3 linked regions of the Homo sapiens genome follow. The protein of the gene in region 3 interacts with the protein of the main gene of each other region in a pairwise test. Each region holds a gene or a part of one and is shown on either strand. Other genes may lie near its edges.

The links. The genes of interacting proteins can lie anywhere in the genome.
Region 1: the proteins of BANP (region 3) and ZNF471 interact in binary tests that used the Homo sapiens proteins (3 or more experiments, as listed by UniProt).
Region 2: the proteins of BANP (region 3) and FAM222B interact in binary tests that used the Homo sapiens proteins (3 or more experiments, as listed by UniProt).

What each region holds. Positions count from the first base shown.
Region 1 is NC_000019.10:56,524,835-56,530,721, forward strand, and holds the end of ZNF471 (zinc finger protein 471), read left to right. Parts: coding exon 1-1,114; 3' UTR 1,115-5,378; downstream 5,379-5,887. UniProt on the Homo sapiens protein: May be involved in transcriptional regulation.
Region 2 is NC_000017.11:28,839,782-28,847,131, forward strand, and holds the start of FAM222B (protein FAM222B), read right to left. Parts: upstream 3,010-7,350; 5' UTR 2,901-3,009; intron 1-2,900.
Region 3 is NC_000016.10:88,003,422-88,010,450, forward strand, and holds part of BANP (protein BANP), read left to right. Parts: intron 1-873; coding exon 874-990; intron 991-2,668; coding exon 2,669-2,844; intron 2,845-7,029. UniProt on the Homo sapiens protein: Controls V(D)J recombination during T-cell development by repressing T-cell receptor (TCR) beta enhancer function. Binds to scaffold/matrix attachment region beta (S/MARbeta), an ATC-rich DNA sequence located upstream of the TCR beta enhancer.

The DNA of each region.
Region 1 (5,887 bases), on a different chromosome or scaffold from region 3:
TACTGGAGAGAAACTCTTTGAATGTAAAGAATGTAGGAAAGCCTTCAAACAAAGTGAACACCTTATTCAGCATCAAAGAATTCATACTGGAGAAAAACCATATAAATGTAAGGAATGCAGAAAAGCCTTCAGACAGCCTGCACACCTTGCTCAGCATCAGAGAATTCATACTGGAGAGAAACCCTATGAATGTAAAGAATGTGGCAAAGCCTTCAGTGATGGCTCGTCTTTTGCTCGACATCAGAGATGTCACACTGGCAAAAGACCCTATGAATGTATTGAGTGTGGGAAGGCTTTTAGGTATAACACATCTTTTATTCGTCACTGGAGGAGTTATCATACTGGAGAGAAGCCTTTTAATTGCATTGATTGTGGGAAAGCCTTCAGTGTTCACATAGGACTTATTCTGCATAGGAGAATTCATACAGGAGAGAAACCTTACAAATGTGGTGTGTGTGGAAAAACCTTCAGCTCGGGTTCATCCCGTACTGTACATCAGAGAATTCATACAGGAGAGAAACCTTATGAATGTGATATATGTGGGAAAGATTTTAGCCATCATGCATCACTCACTCAGCATCAAAGAGTACATTCTGGAGAGAAACCGTATGAATGCAAGGAATGTGGGAAAGCCTTTAGGCAGAATGTACACCTTGTTAGTCATTTGAGAATTCATACTGGTGAAAAACCCTATGAATGTAAAGAATGTGGAAAAGCTTTTAGAATCAGTTCACAGCTGGCTACTCATCAGAGAATTCATACTGGAGAGAAGCCTTATGAATGTATTGAATGTGGAAATGCTTTCAAACAGAGATCACACCTTGCCCAACATCAGAAAACTCATACAGGAGAGAAACCTTATGAGTGTAATGAATGCGGGAAAGCCTTCAGCCAAACTTCCAATCTTACTCAACATCAAAGAATTCATACTGGAGAGAAACCCTATAAATGTACTGAATGTGGAAAGGCTTTTAGTGATAGCTCATCCTGTGCTCAGCATCAAAGACTCCACACTGGCCAAAGGCCCTATCAGTGTTTTGAATGTGGGAAGGCGTTCAGAAGAAAGTTATCCTTAATTTGTCATCAAAGAAGTCATACTGGAGAAGAACCTTAAGAATGTAGTGCATGTGGCCAAGCCTTTAGTTATCACCAATCCCCTACTGTTAATCAGAGATGTCCCACTGGATAAAAAACATATAAATGTAAGAAATGTAGAAAAACCTTCAGCCAGGAGGCTGGCAAGATGGCCGAATAGGAACAGCTCTGATCTGCAGTTCCCAGTGAGATCAACGCAGAAGGTGGGTGCTTTCTGTATTTCCAGCTGAGGTACCTGGCTCATCTCATTGGGACTGGTTAGACAGTGGGTGCAGCCCACGGAGGGTGAGCTGAAGCAGGGTGGGGCGTAACCTCACCTGGGAAGTGCAAGGAGTCGGGGATCTCCCTCCCCTAGCCAAGGGAAGCCATGAGGGACTGTGCCATGAGGAATGGTGCACTCCGGCACAGATACTACGCTTTTCCCATGGTCTTCGCAACCCACAGACCAGGAGATCCCCCTTGGGTGCCTATGCCACCAAGGCCCTGGGTTTCAAGCACAAAACTGGGCGGCCATTCGGGCAGACACCGAGCTAGCTGTAGGAGTTTTTTTGATAGCCCAGTGGCACCTGGAATGCCAGTGAAACAGAACCGCTTACTCCCTTGTTAAGGGGGCTGAAGCCGGGGAGCCAAGTGGTTCCCATGCCCACTGAGCCCAGCAAGCTAAGATCCACTGGCTTGGAATTCTCCCTGCCAGCACAGCAGTCTGAAGTCAACCTGGGATGATCAAGCTTGGTGGGGGGAGGGGCGCCAACCATTACCAAAGCTTGAATAGGTGGTTTTCCCCTCACAGCGTAAACAAAGCCATGGGGAAGTTCCAGCTGAGCAGAGCCCTCCACAGCTCAGCAAAGCCTCTGTAGCCAGACTGCCTCTCTAGATTCCTCCTCTCTGGGCAGCGCATCTTTGAAAAAAGTGCAGATAAAACCCTCATCTCCCTGGGACAAAGCACGTGGGGGAAAGGGGTGGCTGTGGGCACAGCTTCAGCAGACTTAAACATTCCTGCCTGCCAGCTCTGAAGAGAGCAGCAGTTCTTCCAGCACAGCGCTTGAGCTCTGCTAAGGGACAGACTGCCTCCTCAAGTGGGTCCCTGACCCCCATGCCTCCTGACGGGGAGACACCTCCCAGCAGGGGTCCACAGACACCTCATACAGGAGAGCTCTGGCTGGCATCTGGTGGGTGCCCCTCTGGGACAAAGCTTCCAGAGGAAGGAACAGGCAGCAATCTTTGCTGTTCTGCAGCCTCCACCGGTGATACCCAGGCAGATATGGTCTGGAGTGGACCTCCAGCAAACTCCAGCAGACCTGCAGCCGAGGGGCCTCACTGTTAGAAGGAAAACTAACAGGAATATAATCAACATCAACAAAGGACATCCACACAGAAACCCCATCTGAAGGTTACCAGCATCAAAGACCAAAGGTAGATAAATTCACGAAGATGAGGAGAAACCAGTGCAAAAAGCCTGAAAATTCCAAAAACCAGAATGCCTCTTCTCCTCCAAAGGATCACAACTCCTTGCCGGCAAGGGAACAAAACTGGATAGAGAATGAGTTTGACAAATTGACAGAAGTAGGCTTCAGAAGGTGGGAAATAACAAACTCCTCTGAGCTAAAGGAGCATGTTCTAACCCAATGCAAGGAAGCTAAGAACCTTGAAAAAAGGTTAGAGGAATTGCTAACTAGAATAACCAGTTTAGAGAAGAACATAAATGACCTGATGGAGCTGAAAAACACAGCATGAGAACTTCGTGAAGCATACAGAAGAAAAACCTTCAGCCAGATTGAATGCTTTACAGGGAAGAATTCATACTGCAGAGCGGTCTTAACAATGTAAAGAATGTGCAAATGTCCTCAGACAAGATGCACACCTTGCTCATTAGTGAGTTCATTTCAGGCAGCCAGCTCTTCCTCACCCACTACATCACCAAGTCCTGTGGATATATCTGCTAAATATTTTTGGAATTTATCCACTTCTTTTGGTTCCCCAGTCCAAAACACAGTCATTTCACCTGGACTATTTCAATCATTACACAGGTGTCCAACCTTTTGTCTTCCCTGGGCCACATTGGAAGAAGAAAAATTGTCTTGTGCCACACATACAATACACTAACATTAACAATAGCTGATGAGCTAAGAAAAAAAAAAAGTCTGTGCATAGTTTTAGTGATACACCACCTCCGATAAGCAAAAAAGTCCTCACATTCAATGGGTTGCATACCCATGAATTCTAAAACTTCATCCTCTTTTGTCCCTTTCGAGTTAACATTACAGCCACAGTGACCTTTCAAAAATGCAAATTAAGTTACTCTTAAAACTCTAGTTAAAATACTTGATGTACATAAAGTGCTTAGCAAAATGACCAACTCATACTAAGTGCTTAGTAAATGTTAGATAAGTATTCTCCAGAATTGATGTAAATTATTTTTAAACAGTGCATTCTTGAAAGCAGTATGGCAGTCATAAAAATTTTGGAACCAAAACAGTATCTTTTTTTAAGCTAAAAAAAAAGTTTTAAATGGTGTCTTTCTATGTTGCCCAGGGTGGTCTCAAACTCCTGTGCTCAAGTGACCCTCCCACCTCATTCTCAAGTGGCTGCAATTACAGGCAACCAGCCTGACTTAAAACAGTATCTTAAGGTAGATGGTGATTAGCACATGTAGTATGCTTAACATTTAATATTATAATAAGACATCACAGCGGCTGTCTCATGATTAAGGCTGTGTTCCCTTGTTGGTGAGGAAATTAATTATGACTTGATAAATAGAACATGTTTTAAGAAGTGGCTATATAGCTCTGGATAAAACGAACAAAAGAATTAGAATTCCTGCGGGGAATATATACAAGACTTTATTTAGTCAAGTAAAAAAAAATCACTAATGTTTAACTGAAGAAAGAGAAATTGAATAATATAGTTCTATTTCAACATGTGGGTTCACAGATTTATTCTAACCTTCCAAGTAAAGTTGTTCCACTAGTAAAGTTGTTCTGGAGTATATTTTTTTTAAAAAAAACACTTAAAATGTTCCACTTCTTTCATGAGGCTAAGTCAACTCTGATATCAAACCAAGGGGAAAGAAATGAAATTATAGGTGAGTTTACTTAGTTATATACAAAAGGAAATTATTAGCCTCTGCTGATGGAGAACAGAGGCTGTGAATAAATGGAGATCCATAACATGATCCTACATGAATGTTTCAATATTGTAATCCTGTAAGTTACTTTTACATTGACAGTTCTGAAATTCATGTTGAGTGTTAATTAGGCAGGAATCAGAAGGGAGGTTTTGTAGAAGGTCGTATCCATGGGTTTTTTATATTTGAAAAGTGTTTTCGATGTATCATTGGGGGAGATTAAATGTCTTTGACAGTTGTCCAACTAGAAATAAAGTCAGCATCCCATTTGACTCCTTACACAGAAGTTCATTCTATACTCATTACAGATGTAAGAGGTTAAGATGGTAGAGGAGAATGTAGAGTATTTCTGTGCCTTTAGGTTCAGGAGGTCTTTGATAAGCAGGACAAGGTCCAGAAGCCATGAAGAGAGAATGACAGGACTGTGTAGAAGATTTAAACCTTTTTCATGGCGTAAGATACTGTATGCAAAGTTAAAAGGCATATGACAGGCTGAGAGATATCTTAAACATACATTAGAAAGGATATAGCCCTTGAAAAAGGGCTGTTGGAAAGCAGCAAGGATAAGGTGCACAGTCTTGCAGAGCATGTCAACAAAATTTATTGGATGAAGAAATTAAAATGGTTAAATAGAAGAAGTTCTCAACCTCACTAATGATCAGATAAGTGCAGATTGTAAAAGTCCTCATCCCCACCAACACAAACCAGCAGAAATTTTATGTGAATGTGAAGTTTGGATAATATCCAGTATTGTCGCAGGTGTGAGAAACCGTATTTTCAAATATTGAGAGGGTAAATTAGAGGAAAGCCATTTTAGAGGGCAATGTGGTGTTACCTGTCAGCATTTTGAATATAATTACCCTTTGCCACAATTCTACACCTAGTCAGTTATGTTCTCAAAAAGCACAAGTGCAGAAATATAGATGCATAAGCAAATGTGTTGCAGAATTGTGAAAAATTTGGAAAAAATGTTTAGTGCTATTAAAGTTATGGGTTACTTAAGTTACAGAAAATCAGTTTAGTAGATCACTGTGTAGTTACGGAAAATGAGATGGATCTCTACTCAAAGATGTCTTGCAGTTTATGAACTGAGATGTAACTTCATGACTAACATGATGACATCGTTATTAACTACATAAACTTTATAAAGCTTAAAAAATGCATTCATAGTATCTTATTTGTTGTTTTTGTTTACAATACAAATAGAAACCATGCACACAGATACAAGAACTCCTTCCCTGTTGTTTGTTTTTGTTTTGTTTTGTTTTTGGTAGCGGGCGGGGTGAGCTGCTCTCATGTTATTCCATGAGTTTTTTTATGTGTTGCTTGTTGTGCATGGTTCATTTTTTGTTTTTATTTTTTGAGACGGAGTCTCGCTCTGTCACCAGGCTGGAGTGCAGTGGTGCGATCTCGGCTCACTGCAACCTCCACCTCCCGGGTTCAAGCGATTCTCCTGCCTCACCCTCCTGAGTAGCTGGGACTACAGGATAGTCTCGATCTCTTGACTCATGATCTGCCCACCTTGGCCTCCCAAAGTGCTGGGATTACAGGCATAAGCCACCGCTTCCAGCCTGTATATGGTTCATTTAAATCAAATGAGATACTCCTTGAGACATGGGGGAAGTTGAATGTGAGTTATCCTTTGGCCAAGACTTAAAGATGGTATAT
Region 2 (7,350 bases), on a different chromosome or scaffold from region 3:
AAAGTAAAAAGGTTAAAATTATACATCACTGTGCATTTCCAGGAAAGAAAAGTGAAACACATTTTACCAGACAGAGAAGTTAAAAACAACCAGGTTCATTTTTCCCATTCCTGTAAATTCACTCCCCTTATTTGTGAATCTTCAAGAATCTAGTATAGCCCCTCCCTACCTTTACTCAGGTAAAAGACCAATCACTCATCAATTGCCAAAACGCCTTGACAGTTTAAGGTCTCAATCCTCAGAGTCAGCAAAGCTGAAGTGTCTATGTCCTTTTAAAAGGAGTCTGCATCTCTACTTTAGAAACCATTTTCTCACTGCGCTTGGTGGCTTACGCCTGTGATCCCAGCACTTTGGGAGGCCGAGGCAGGCGGATCACCTGGTTCGAAACCAGCCTGACCAAAATGGCGAAACCCCATCTCTACTAAAAATACAAAAACTAGCCGGGCATGGTGGTGGGTGCCTGTAATCGCAACTACTTGGAGGCTGAGGCAGGAGAACTGCTTGAACCCGGGAGGTGGAGGTTGCAATGAGCCGAGATTGCGCTACTGCACTCCAGCCTGGGCGACAGAACAAGACTCTGTGTCAAAACAAAATAAAATAAAAAGAACCCATTTTCTCTTTCCATAAACACATAGTTTGTCCTCTGCTTTGTCTACATTAAAAAACACGTCTCAGGAGTGTTTCTTCAGCCTCTCAGGAAAACCAAGACACCTCTTGGGCTCCTCTTCTGAGATATTCCACCTGAGAGATCCCACTGACAAGCAGGGTAACAAAAAGCAGAGCTAGAGGGCTGCCTTATGCATATCTGACCTCCAAAACAGCGACAGGTCCCCGGAGCAGCCAGAGACTCCTTTGCAAAGGAGAACTTTTTATAATTTAAAAATAATAAAATGGGCCAAGCACGGTGGTTCACGCCTGTAATCCCAGCACTTTGGGAGGCTGGGGCGGGCGGATCACCTGAGGTCAGAAGTTTGAGACCAGCCTGTCCAGCAATGGAGAAACCCCGAGTGTACTAAAAAAAATACAAAAATTAGCCGGGTATGGTGGCACGTGCCTATAATCCCAGGTACTAGGGAGGCTGAGGCAGGAGAATTGCTTGAACCCAGGAGGCGGAGGTTGCAGTGAACCAAGTTCGCACCACTGCACTCCAGCCTGGGTGACAGAGCAAGACTCCTTCACCCACCTCAAAAAAAATTATAATAAAATAAAATAAAAATAAAGATAACAAAATAGCCAGGCACGGTGGCTCACGCCTGTAATCCCGGCACTTTGAGAGGCCGAGGTGGGTGGATCACCTGACGTGAGGAGTTCAAGACCAGCCTGGCCAACATGGTGAAACCCCATCTCTACTAAAACTACAAAAATTAGCCAGGCGTGGTGGTGGGCATTTGTAATCCCAGCTACTCAGGAGGCTGAGACAGGAGAATCGCTTGAACCCGGGAGGCGGAGGTTGCTGTGAGCCGAGATGATGCCACTGCACTCCTGCCTGGCGACAGAGCGAGACTCCGTCTCAAAAATAAAATAAAATATAATAAACAAATTATATTTTCACATCCCTCACTGGGCAGCCCTCCCAGCTTGTCTCAAACTAGTTTTCTTAACTCTTTTTTCCAGACGGAGTCTCGCACTGTCACCCGAACTGGAGTGCAATAGCACTATCTCGGCTCACCGCAACCTCTGCCTCCCGGGTTCGAGTGATTCCCCTGCCTCAGCTTCCCAAGCAGCTGGGATTACAGGCGCCCGCCACCACACCCGGCTGATTTTTTGTATTTTTAGTAGAGACGGGATTTCACTACGTTGGCTAGGCTGGTCTCCAACTTCTGACCTCGTGATCCGCCCGCCTCGGCCTCCCAAAGTGCTGGGATTACAGACATGAGCCACTGCACCCGGCCTTTTCTCAACTCGTTAAAGCACATTAGTGCCAACTGTGTTATAAGGCAACATGAGTTAGCTATGTTCAGAAAATATTTTAATAGATTGGCCCTCCATCCTTTCGGGTGAGGAGCTGCAAACCGTTTGTAAAAACGCCGGAGTACGGTATTTTTCCTACAGAAGTCTGATGGCTAATTTATCACATTACAGAACTGGTAGTTCTGCACATGGTCTGCTGTGCCCATAAAGAAAGCACATATGTGTCTACTGAGGTTTTACAAACAATACGCTTCTTATCTTAACAGAGAAATCAGTCATTCCATTAACAACGGTAAGGTCTAAATTCCACTAACATTGTTGGTGATACATTAACATCAACATAGTACTTACAATTCACAATTTGCATAAACAATCTCAATTACATAGGTGATGCTTGCAATAGCCCGTTTGAAGCATGACATCTTCCTGGTGTTCAGAAAGGTTAAGTGGGACCTGCCCAAGGTTACCTAACAGCTTTATCAATGGTGGACTTCCTTTCGAACCTGCCTGACTCTAAGCCCCTAGCTCTTTTCCCTAGACCCCTCCCGGCTTTCAAAAGAGGGTTCCCGACTCCCATCCTCTACCCAGAGCAGCCTATTACTCCGGGAGACCGACCCTTCCCCTGCCTGGTTCAGAGGTGGCTTCTTAAGCTCCAGCAGAGCTTTCATCCTCCACCACCCTCCCCCCGCAATCATTCTCTGAAAGAAGCGGAAAGGAGAGGCGACCAAAAGCTCCTGGAGGAAGGGATGATACAAATGGGCTGCTTCACTCCACAGCACGCAACCCCGTCCCCCTCCACCAAGCTGTCCAGCTCTGCGGCCGGCGACCGGGCCACCCGTGCCCCAAATTCTCCCATCATCACCTCAAACTGTACCTCCCCCACGCCCTTCCGTCTCCCACAGTCAGAGCCCACCCCACAAAGTCATGTATCCTTCCGCTAAGTTACCCTCTTCCCACGCGTTGTCCACTCCCCCTCCACCACTACTCACGGTCGGTGACTGGGCCCGGCCCTCATGGCTGCTCCTTTGCCGCCCGCCGCCCGCCGCCACCACTTCTCCACTGCCCGGCCCCTCAGTCACCGGCGCAGCTGTGGGGACTACCCGGAGCCGCTCCTGCGCCTGCGCAGCGTGTAGCGCCTGGGCCCTTTCGGGCCGCACGCGCCTGCGCAGCCCCTGCCGGGGGCGTCTTCCTCAGTGCCTGATGGTCTGGACCCCTGGGTCTCTAGTGGACATGGGAGCTGGCCTTGAAGAATTCTGAGGCTTAGAGAATTTGGCGGCTGCCTCAGGGTACGCCTCTGGAGTACCGTGCCTAGGTTACTAAACCCTTGGATCGCGCTTCCCCAAGGAGCCACAGACTTACTGGCTCTTCCAGAATTCTGCATCCTACTTGCACTTAAAGGCCTGAATTCAGGTGCTCTGAGGTGACCACTGATGATAAATTTGGGTCTTTTTTTTTTTTTTTCTGAGTCGAAGTTTCGCTCTTGTTGTCCAGGTTGGAGTGCAATGGCGTGATCTCGGCTCAAACAACCTCCGCCTCCCGGGTTCAAGCGATTCTCCTGCCTCAGCCTCCCGAGTAGCTGGGATTACAGGCATGCACCACCACGCCCAGCTAATTTTGTATTTTTAGTAGAGACGGGGTTTTATCATGTTGGTCAGGCTGGTCTCGAACTCCCGACCTCAGGTGATCCACCCACCTCAGCCTTCTAAAGCGCTGGGATTACAAGCATGAGCCACCGCGCCCAGCCTGGGTCTTTTTTTTTTTTTTTTTTTTTTGAGACGGAGTTTTGCTCTTGTTGCCCAGGCTGGAGTGCAGTGGCGCGATCTCAGCTCACTGCAACCTCCGCCTCCCGGGTTCAAACGATTCTCCTGCCTCAGCCTCCTGACTAGCTGGGATTACAGGCTTGCACCACCACGCCTGGCTAACTTTTGTATTTTTAGTAGAGACGGGGTTTCACCATGTTGGCCAGGCTGGTCTCGAACTCCTGACCTCAGATGATTCGCCCGCCCCGGCCTCCCAAAGTGCTGGGATTACAGGCCTGAGTCACCATGCCTGGTAAAATTTGGGTCTCTTTCAAGATGATCGTGTCTAGAATGTATCGGGGGTAATTATGTAAAGGCAGCTTTGCCATCCTAGAATACGCTACTAGCTAGGAGGTGCAATGAAGTCCTGGGGACCTTGTCAAGGAGGTGACCTCGCCTAGAATGCACTGGGGACACCGCTAAGTTCAGTATGTTTATCAAGCACATGCTGTTTATTGGACAGAAATGTTCTAGGCATCGCGTGTATGCTATTGAGGAATTCGCAGGCAAATAGTCCCCTGCTTTCCAGCTCTCACTGTGAGCCTGGCCCTTTTTCAAACTGGTAAAAGAAAACCACTAAAGTCCAGTGAGGCCCAACTGTCAGTCCCTAGACTACTGTGCTGCTTTGGCATAGCCTGACAAGAGACTAAGCTCAATCGAGTCCTGAGAATTCAACAAAACAGACTTGAAAGCAGCAGGCAAGAGGAGGTACAGGACTAAACTCTCTCCTCATCACCATGGCTCTTTTTTCTCTCTCAACTCCAGCGCTGGTCTCCTCTCTTCAGAGTTTGGACACATAAGGCCCAAGATACAACGTAAGGGGGAAAAAGAGAAGAAAAAAAGACAAGTTGAGTGCTCAATGAGGAATGTTAAAAAAATTTAAATAGGCCAGGTGCAGTGGCTCACGCCTGTAATCCCAGCACTTTGGGAGGCCGAGGCGGGCGGATCATGAGGTCAGGAGATCGAGACCATCCTGGCTAACACGGTGAAACCCCGTCTCACTAAAAATACAAAAAATTAGCCGGGCGTGGTGGCGGGCGCCTGTAGTCCCAGCTACTCAGGAGGCTGAGGCAAGAGAATGGCGTGAACCCGGGAGGCGGAGCTTGCAGTGAGCCGAGATCAAGCCACTGCATTCCAGCCTGGGCGACAGAGCGAGACTCCGTCTCAAAAGAAAAAAAAATTAAAAATAAAGCTGGGCATAGTGACTTATGCTTGTAATCCCAACATTTTGGGAGGCCAGGTTGGGAGGATTGCTTGAGCCCAGGAGTTAGAGACCAGCCTGGGCAACATAGGGAGACTCATCTCTACAAAAAATCTAAAAAATAGTGGCCAGGCAAGATAGCTCATGCCTGTAAACCCAGCACTTTGGGAGGTTAAGGCGGGCGGATCACTTGAAGCCAGGAATTCGAGACCAGCCTGGCCAACACGGTGAAACCCTGTCTCTACTGAAAAAATACAAAAATTATCTGGGCATGGTGGCATGCACCTGTAGTCCCAGCTACTCAGGAGGCTGAGGCAGGAAAATCGCTTGAACCCAGGAACGGAGGTTACAATGAGCCGAGATCGCACCACTGCACTCCAGCCTGGATAACAGAGTGAGACTCCATCTCAATTAAAAAAATAAATAGGGCCGGGCGCGGTGGCTCAGGCCTGTAATCCCAGCACTTTGGGAGGTCGAGGTGGGCGGATCACGAGGTCAGGAAATCGAGACCATCCTGGCTAACACGGTGAAACCTCATCTCTACTAAAAATATAAAAAATTAGCCGGGCATGGTGGCGGGCCCCTGCAGTCCCAGCTACTTGGGAGGCTGAGGCGGGAGAATGGCGTGAAGCCCGGAGGCAGAGCTTGCAGTGAGCCAAGACGGTGCCACTGCACTCCAGCCTGGGGACAGAGCGAGACTCCATCTCAAAAAAAAAAAATACAAAAATACAAAAAAATTGGCTGGGCGTGGTGGTGGGCGCCTGTAGTCCCAGCTACACGGGAGGCCGAGGCAGGAGAATGGCATGAACTGGGAAGCGGAGCTTGCAGTGAGCCGAGATCGCGCCACTGCACTCCAGCCTTGGCGACAGAGCGAGACTCTGTCTCAAAAAAAAAAGGAAAAAAAGAAAAAATAAATAAATAGGCCAGGCACAGTGGGTCACACCTGTAATCCCAGCACTTTGGGAAGCCGAGGTGGGCAGATCATAAGGTCAGGAGATCGAGACCATTCTGGCTAACACGGTGAAACCCCATCTCTACTAAAAATACAAAAAATTAGCCGGGCATGGTGGCGGGTGCCTGTAGTCCCAGCTACTTGGGGGGCTGAGGTGGGACAATCAATTGAACCCGGGAGGTGGAGGTTGTAGTGAGCCAAGATTGCGCCACTGCAATCCAGCCTGGGTGACAGAGCAAGGCTCCATCTCAAAAAGAAAAATAAATAAATAAATAAGGGTTGGGCCTGGTGGCTCACGCCTGTAATCTCAGCACTTTGGGAGGCCAAGGCGGGTGGATCACGAGGTCAGGAGATCGAGACCATCCTGGCTAACACGGTGAAACCCCGTCTCTACTAAAAATACAAAAAATTAGCTGGGCATGGTGGCGGGCGCCTGTAGTCCCAGGTACACAGGAGGCTGAGGCAGGAGAACGGCGTGAACCCAGGAGGTGGAGGTTGCAGTGAGCCGAGACCATGCCACTGCACTCCAGCCTGGGCGACAGAGCAAGACTCCATCTCAAAAAAAAAAAAAAAAATTAGCTGGATGTGGTGGTGCACACCTGTGGTCCCACCTACTTGGGAGGCTGAGGTGGGAGAATCACTTGAACCCAGGAGGCAGAGGTTGCAGTGAGCCTAGACTACACTACACCGCAGCCTAAGGAACCGAGTGAGACTGTGTCTCAAAAAAATTTTTTTAATTAAAAAAAAAATGTTCAGGCCAGGTACGGTGACTCACGCCTGTAATGTCATCACTTTGGGAGGTGGAGTAGGCGGAGTTTGAGACCAAGCTGGGCCACATGGTGAAAACCCGTCTGTACAAAAAAATTACCAAAAAATTAGCCGGGTGTGGTGGCCCGCATCTGTAGTCCCAGCTACTTGGGAGGCTGAAGAGCGAGGATTGCTTGGGTCTGGGAGGCGGAGGTTGCAGTGAGATTCAACCATTGCACTCCAGCCTAGGGGAGCCAGACTCCATCTCAGTAAGAATAAAATTTTCCTCTTAAAAAAGAAAAGAAAATCCTCTATTAACCCCACAGCCCTCTCCTGCTCAATATTGGTCCTCAATATCCAAGGGTTCAGCATCTAGGAATTCAACCATCCGAAGAACAAAAATATCTGGGGAAAGGCCAAACGTGGTGTCTCATGCCTGTAAACTCAGCACTTGGGGAGGCCAAGGCAGAGGACCATTTGAGGCCAGGAGTTCGTGACCAGCCTGGGCAACGTAGTGAGACTCTGTCTCTGCAAAAGATTTAAAAATTAGCGCTGGGCGTGGTGGCTGACGCCTGTAATCCCAGCACTTTGGGAGGCCTAGGTGGGTAGATCACCTAAGGTCAGGAGTTCGAGACCAGCCTGACCAACATGGAGAAACCCCATCTCTACTAAAAATACCAAATTAGCCGGGCATGGTGGAACATGCCTGTGATCCCAGCTACTCGGGAGGCTGAGGCAGG
Region 3 (7,029 bases):
AGTTTTATTGTCAGGTGATAATCACGTTGTGTTTCTAGTGCTAGTTCTTTCTCTCCCCAGCCTTCCACAACAAAGCGGACCTTAGATATCCCTTGTGACCAGAAAGTGCTAAGGCTTAAAAACGCATGATTGAAAACTGTGGGTGAGTCTGTACTTTGAGATGAAGCTGTGTTAGCTGCCGCCTGTCTGAACACACTCGTGCTTCCTCCAGGGTGGCGCCAGGCTTGCTGGTTTCTGGGCCATGGTCTGTTCTTTTGTAGAATCTTTTCCTTCAAAGCAGAACCCTGAGCCCTTTGGTTGTAGCTCACACATGTTCCTGCAGGACCTGGAGGCAGCATGTGTGTCCTTCCATCCCAAGTCCAACGTGATGTTTGCCCCTTTCTTTCCAGGGCGCTACCGTTTTGGAATGATACCAACACTTACGTGGTTACGAACGTTAGATCTGTCCCATAGGAATGAGTTGGGATGGAGTGACTGAAAATGTCAAGCCAGTTCTCATGCAAGTGTGCCACCCTAGAAGCTTTATTAACTGGGTGCGATAACAGCTGGTGCGGTTGCAGTCTATTCTGTCACAAGTTCAGCATCCTCAGCCCAGCTGTCCTGTGCTATCCAGTTGTGCAGACAGATCACCAACAATTAGGAAAAGTTACGTTCTGCTAAAAACCCCATCTCCAGTTTATTCTTCCTTAGCATTTGGGGCTCCTTCCCCCTCAGGACGGGTCCCTGGGAGTGGACTATGTTGAATGACTCTTAGGCCTCCCCCTCAGTGCGGGTCCCTGGGAGTGGACTGTGTTGAATGACTCTTATGTGCTCTTACCATGAATGTTGTTGTTTTAAGGCCTTCTTTTTCTTTGTGATTCTTTTGTTCCCTAGCGTCGTCCCCCAGACTACAGTAATACTCAACAATGATCGGCAGAACGCCATTGTAGCCAAGATGGAAGACCCCTTGAGCAACAGGGCACCGGATTCCCTGGAAAATGTCATTAGCAAGTCAGTAGCACGGCACCAACCCCACCTTTCCCTGCCACTGTGCGGAGTCCCATGAGAATAAGTCAACGTCCCTAAGCCAGGGCACAGTCCAGCACACGCTTCATCTCTGTGGTCACAGGGTTGAGCCTGGCAGGCACCGCCCCAGCTCTCTGAGGTCGGGGAGGGCAGGCTGGGCGATGCTGAATGCTGAGTCCAGCCACACCAGGGGCAGCTGCCGCCGGGGACTTCTGTGTCTCGTGCTGGCCGGGGTTGTGGAGGGGGCTGGCTCTGTCTCCTCACAGCAGTCTGTGAAAGCGTTCATCCTCCCACCTAGCTCAGTGGTCCTCACGTCTGTCTGTGCAGAGCGTGTCAGGCAAACAGACGCCCTCTCCCACGGTTGCTAAGTGGTGCAGGCATGTTGAGTTTATGACTTTTTTCTTATACCTTTTTCTCTTGAGACATTTTGAATGGAACTTTGGTCAGAGGTGGGAGTGGACAGAAGACACCGTCCCCGCTCTGTGTGAGGGGAAGGCTGTGCAGTGGCCTCTGGCTGGCATCCAAGCCCTGCTGTCCCCAGGAGTGCCCCTGGGGCTGCGTGAACCCCTGAGGATGCTGTTGCTTTTTCTTTCCCATCTGTGTCTTCACAAAGTTCTATTTGCTTTTTCTCTCAGTCTCCTTTGTGGATTCCTCCTCCTCCAGCTTCGTCCCCTTTCTGTATTGTCTTAGCTCAGTTCTCCAGGGCCGCAGCTGTGGTCGCAAGGGTCTGATACGTGGGGTGAAGGGAGAGGAGTTGGTGATGGGCGGTGAGGAGGTGCCAGGGTCAGCTGTGCCTCAGGGGCTTTGCACTGAGGTCAGCCAGGCAGATGGCCAGTGTTGAGATCAGGTTCAGCGTGGACAGCGCTCTAGAGAATCCAGGCCAGAAAGTGCAGAGTGCAGCGCCCTCCTCTGGGTGCGGCCAGTGTTTTCAACACCCTTTTTTTTGACTTTGCATATAGAGAAATTGTGCTCCTTTCTCCTGCTGGTGCGTAGCAGTCCACGGTAGAGGATGTTGAAAGGGTCACTAAAAAAGGGAAGTAGTAAGTCTCTAAATCATCCTTTTTTTTGAGCACTTGTGGAGGTGGCCTCGCCCTGCTTTGCTAGCAGTGTTCTGTCCTTCCACATCAGCAGCCCTTGGGATGATGGCAGCTCCGATGGGATCTCAGTGGGTTTTTTAAGCCCCGTCAGGGTTTTTTGCCCGTGGGCGTACGTGGGAGTGCTGCTCGCATTGCGAGGGGGAGCCATCTCCAGCGAGCCCAGCAGCGTGGATCGAATTGACCCAGGCCTCTGGGCACAGTTTTCCTCATTTAGTCTTCCCTTTAACCTCGCCGGAAAAAAGACTCTTACCAGCATTTTATGGGATGACTACTGAACTCAGAAGGCAGCATGCTAGGCCTGAGTCCCAGTGAGTATGATTTTACTCCTTTTGTGATACAAACATTTTCTTTAAATGGTTAAGTTTTATTTTATACAGTTTCTTTCAGCCCCAGGCCATTTTCTCCCATGGAGTTTCTATTAATCTTGGTAGAGAGAGCAGTATGGGAAGGCTGTGTGATCCACTGGTCCACACAGAGTTAGATTTTGCGATAAGGAAAGCGCTGACCTTCGCGTGCTGCTTGCGGCTCTTACCACATCGGGCTGGTGTGTTTTTTTTCCCGTTTAGCGCTGTGCCTGGGCGTCGGCAGAACACCATTGTGGTGAAGGTGCCGGGCCAAGAAGACAGCCACCACGAGGACGGGGAGAGCGGCTCGGAGGCCAGCGACTCTGTGTCCAGCTGTGGGCAGGCGGGCAGTCAGAGCATCGGGAGCAACGTCACGCTCATCACCCTGAACTCGGAAGGTGCGTCCAGGGCGGCTTTCCTCGGCCAGAGCGCCAGTACAATTGTTTGTTTGTTTTGCCTTTTAGAAATTTTGTTGTTTTTTAAAGAAGTGATACAGTGGCCAGGCGCGGTGGCTCACGCCTGTAATCCCAGCACTTTGGGAGGCTGAGGCGGGCGGATCACCTGAAGTCGGGAGTTCGAGACCAGCCTGGCCAACATGGAGAAACCCTGTCTCTACTGAAAATACAAAATTAGCCGGGTGTGGTGGCAGGTGCCTGTAATCCCAGCTACTCGGGAGGCTGAGGCAGGAGAATCGCTTGAGCCTGGGAGGTGGAGGTTGCGGTGAACCGAGATCATGCCATTGCATCCAGCCTGGGCAATAGAGGAAACTCCATCTCAAAAAAAAAAAAAAAGTGATACAGTATAGGACAGGCTCAGTGGCTCACACCTGTAATTCCAGCACTTTGGGAGGCTGAGGCGGGTGGATCATGAGGTCAGGAGTTCAAGACCAGCCTGGCCAAAATGGTGAAACCCCATCTCTACTAAAACTACAAAAATTAGTTGGGCACGGTGACAGGTGCCTGTAATCCCAGCTACTTGGGAGGCTGAGGCGGGAGAATTGCTTGAACCTGGGTGGCAGAGGTTGCAGTGAGCTGAGATCGCACCACTGTACTCTAGCCTGGGCGTCAGAGACTCTGTCTCAAAAAAAAAAAAAAAAAAAAAAAGATAGTGATACAGTATAAACATGAAGATTAAAGGGAAAATAACTGTGATCCCACCATTCTGAGATCTCTAAACCTTTTGGGGTTTTTTGGTGCACATTTTATGATTTTATAACTCACTTCTTTCCCCTACACAGTAGAAATCTTTCCACGTTAGTGCAGATGGACAGAGTCATTTTTAGCCAGTTTTGCTTATTTCATCAGGTCTGGATGCTTTCCAGGGATGGCCCCCTCTAACCTTTCGTTATTGAAACTAGCATTGGCCTGCTGTGTTTTCATGTCTCTTGGATCAGTGTCTGGACGTGGGCTCTCAGAGGCAGGTTGCTGGGCTAGAGGACGCAGCTTCCACGGGTTCCATGGCACAGGATGCATTGCCCATTTCCCCCGAGATCTGGAAGGATGTGAAGCTGTTTGTCCTACTTGGACTCCTAGCGGGGGCCTCTCTCCTGCAGGGCTCTGAGGTGCCCTCCCGCCTGGCCCTCGGCCTGCCCAGTGTGCCTTTCAGAGCCGTCTTCCCCTGAGAGCCTCTGTGTGCCCTTCATCCTGTCACCGTAAGTGACCAGATGACTGTCAGTGACTACAGCGTGGAGAAAAGAAAGAACCAAACAGACTTAGCTTTGTGCGTGGAGTTGTAAAGCATGTGTTTTCCTTGCTTACTAGGAAGAACTCAGTTTTTCTGCATCTGCGTCTGAGTTGTTGATTTTTCCTAGCAACTCGATGTTGCTTTGTCTAGTGAACAAAGGCTTTCCTGTTAGGAAGACTCATTACCGTATCTGAAACATTGAAAACAATGTCTTCCACAAAAATTGCTTTTACCTCTAATACAAATTGCTAGGATTCAGATGGCAGAATGGAGGGAAGAGAGAAAGAGACGTTGAGTTGATCTTTTTTTTTTTTCCAAGTTGAGATCTAATTTATATACCATAAAATTGACTGTTTTAAAGCATACGTCTCAGTTGTTTTTAGTATATTCTCAAGGTTGTACAGTCATCACTTCGGACTAATTCTAGAATATTTTTTATTACCCCCAGAAGAAGCCCTGTGCCCATCAACAGTCACTTTCCATTCTCCCAGCCTCCAGCCCCGGCACCCAGCTCATCTCCGTCCTCGTGGATGTGCCTGTTGTGGACCTTGACTCTAAATGGAATCCTGTGGCATCACCCACATTGTAGCTTTTGCCCAGTGCTTTGTTCCTTTTCATGGCTGCGTGATGTGCCGAGGTATGGATGGCCCTCATTCTGTTGATCCATCATCAGTTGATGGGCATCTGGGTGGTTTGCACTTTTTGGCTGTTGTCAGGAATGCTGCTGTGAACGTTGAGGTGCAGGTTTTTGTGTATGTATTAATTGCAGGATCAGGGCAATGGAGTTTTTCACACATGAAATTTGAGGAAAGGAGGGATGCTCCTGATTTCATTTTCATAGAAATTGAAAATCACATTGCAGTAACGACAGACTAATTGTTGTAATTATTTTTGGATGTGGATTTTGTATAAATCCCCACATAGATCTGGCCACCCCCTTCAGGCCTGATGTTTGTTTGATTGAAACTGTGTTAGCTAAGGCAAAAAAACTTGGTAATTCTGGGGAGTCCAGGGTCATAAAAACAAAAAAATCTAAATGAACTTATGAGACGATATCAAATTTGGAGCTTACTTAGTATTGATCTGTATCTATAAGGAAAAATACAAATTTTCTTTGTGTCTGAGTTTAAGTTTTTTTGATGTTTTGTGTAAGACATTTTTCTTTAGCTAGGCTTTGAGCAGAGTTTTATAGCCATCTTTACCACTGATTGTTCTCATCAAACATAATTTTGCTGTACAACACAGGTTGTTAGGATTGGGGTGAACTGCAGAACTTTTTCTCATCTTAAATTTGACTTTATTTTGAAGGAGAGGTCATCATCCAGAGCCATTCTGTTTTCTCATCCCATTAGGAGGAAACATTTTTTGTAATAAATCTGTTTCACTGACTGTCCTTGGGAATGTATATCCCAGTGGGGTCGGTGTTATGAAAATATCTGCTTGAGCTGCCTTATTTGGCATAGTGGCTTGGTGAAAATGAGGAAGTCACCTTTAAATGATTGCTGTGTATGTAAATGTTGGGAAAATAGCCAATCCATTAATGTCTCTTATGTCAGATTTAATCTCAGCCCGTAGTGGCGTCCTCTCTTCAGCACTTCCATGGGGGGTGCGAATGTGCCGAGAATGGGGCCAGCATCTTCCTGCCTGTGGCCCTCTGTCCCAGAGCACCTGGGCAGGTGGTGAATCAGCGAGTTTCTACGAGGGAAAGCATTAGGAATATGGGAAGTGCTAAAGGGGGTGTGCTTGTCTTTCTATTTAGTTGTTTTAGGCCCTGATAAGAAATAGGAGCCGCAGGAGACAGATTGTTCTTAGCTTCTTATTTAAGTATTTAAGTGCCTTAAGTCTTAGAGAACCACAGATTTCAAAACGGTTATTTCTTAAGAATTCCAAATGGCTTGTGTGAATTGACATGCTGTTTTGTATCAAATTTGGAGTCAGTTTATTGTACTGCAAAGATACCATATCATTTTATTCTAGTTTTTTTCACTTAGGTAATTCCGTTTGTCATTACACACGCTCCACTGGAATAAGAAGGATGGTAACTCTCAGCTATTGAAAGCAGGGAACAGTAGACTGTGTCTCATTGGAATAAGAAGGACGGTAGCTCCTGACTGTTGAAAGCATGGAACAGTAGACTGTGTCTCATTAGAATAAGAAGGACGGTAACGCTCAGCTATTGAAAGCAGGGAACAGTAGATTATGTCTCATTAGAATAAGAAGGACGCTAACTCTCAGCTATTGAAAGCAGGGAACAGTAGACTATGTCTCATTAGAATAAGAAGGACAGTAGCTCCTGACTGTTGAAAGCAGTGAACAGTAGACTGTGTCTCATTAGAATAAGAGGGACTGTAGCTCCTGACTGTTGAAAGCATGGAACAGTAGACTGTGTCTCATTGGAATAAGAAGGACTGTAGCTCCTGACTGTTGAAAGCAGGGAACAGTAGACTATGTCTCATTGGAATAAGGACGGTAGTTCCTGACTGTTGAAAGCAGGGAACAGTAGACTGTGTCTTCATTCTTGTGCTTGCCTTTTGTCAGTAGTTTTGGTCTTGGTGTGCTCATAGCTTTGTTTTGTACTTGAAAGTGTGTGGGGCCTCATCATTCAATGACTAAGCTGCCAGCTGAGTTAGAGAAACAAGTTGAGCTAAAATGGACCTAGCATGGGATCTGTTTGTCCATTAAGGGATTTAGTTAGGTTCTTAATCAAGAGTTTAAATTTCTGCTGTGTATGCATTTGATAATTCTTACAAAACGTGACTGATCCTATACATAAAATGTTAGGTACTTCATTTCAGTGGGGGAAGGATTGTGGTTGAATTCTAATTGAATTATTGCCAGGAATTGGTCCCATGGACTTCCCAGGCAGTAGAATGACTTACGTGGTAGCTCTTGGTGATGCC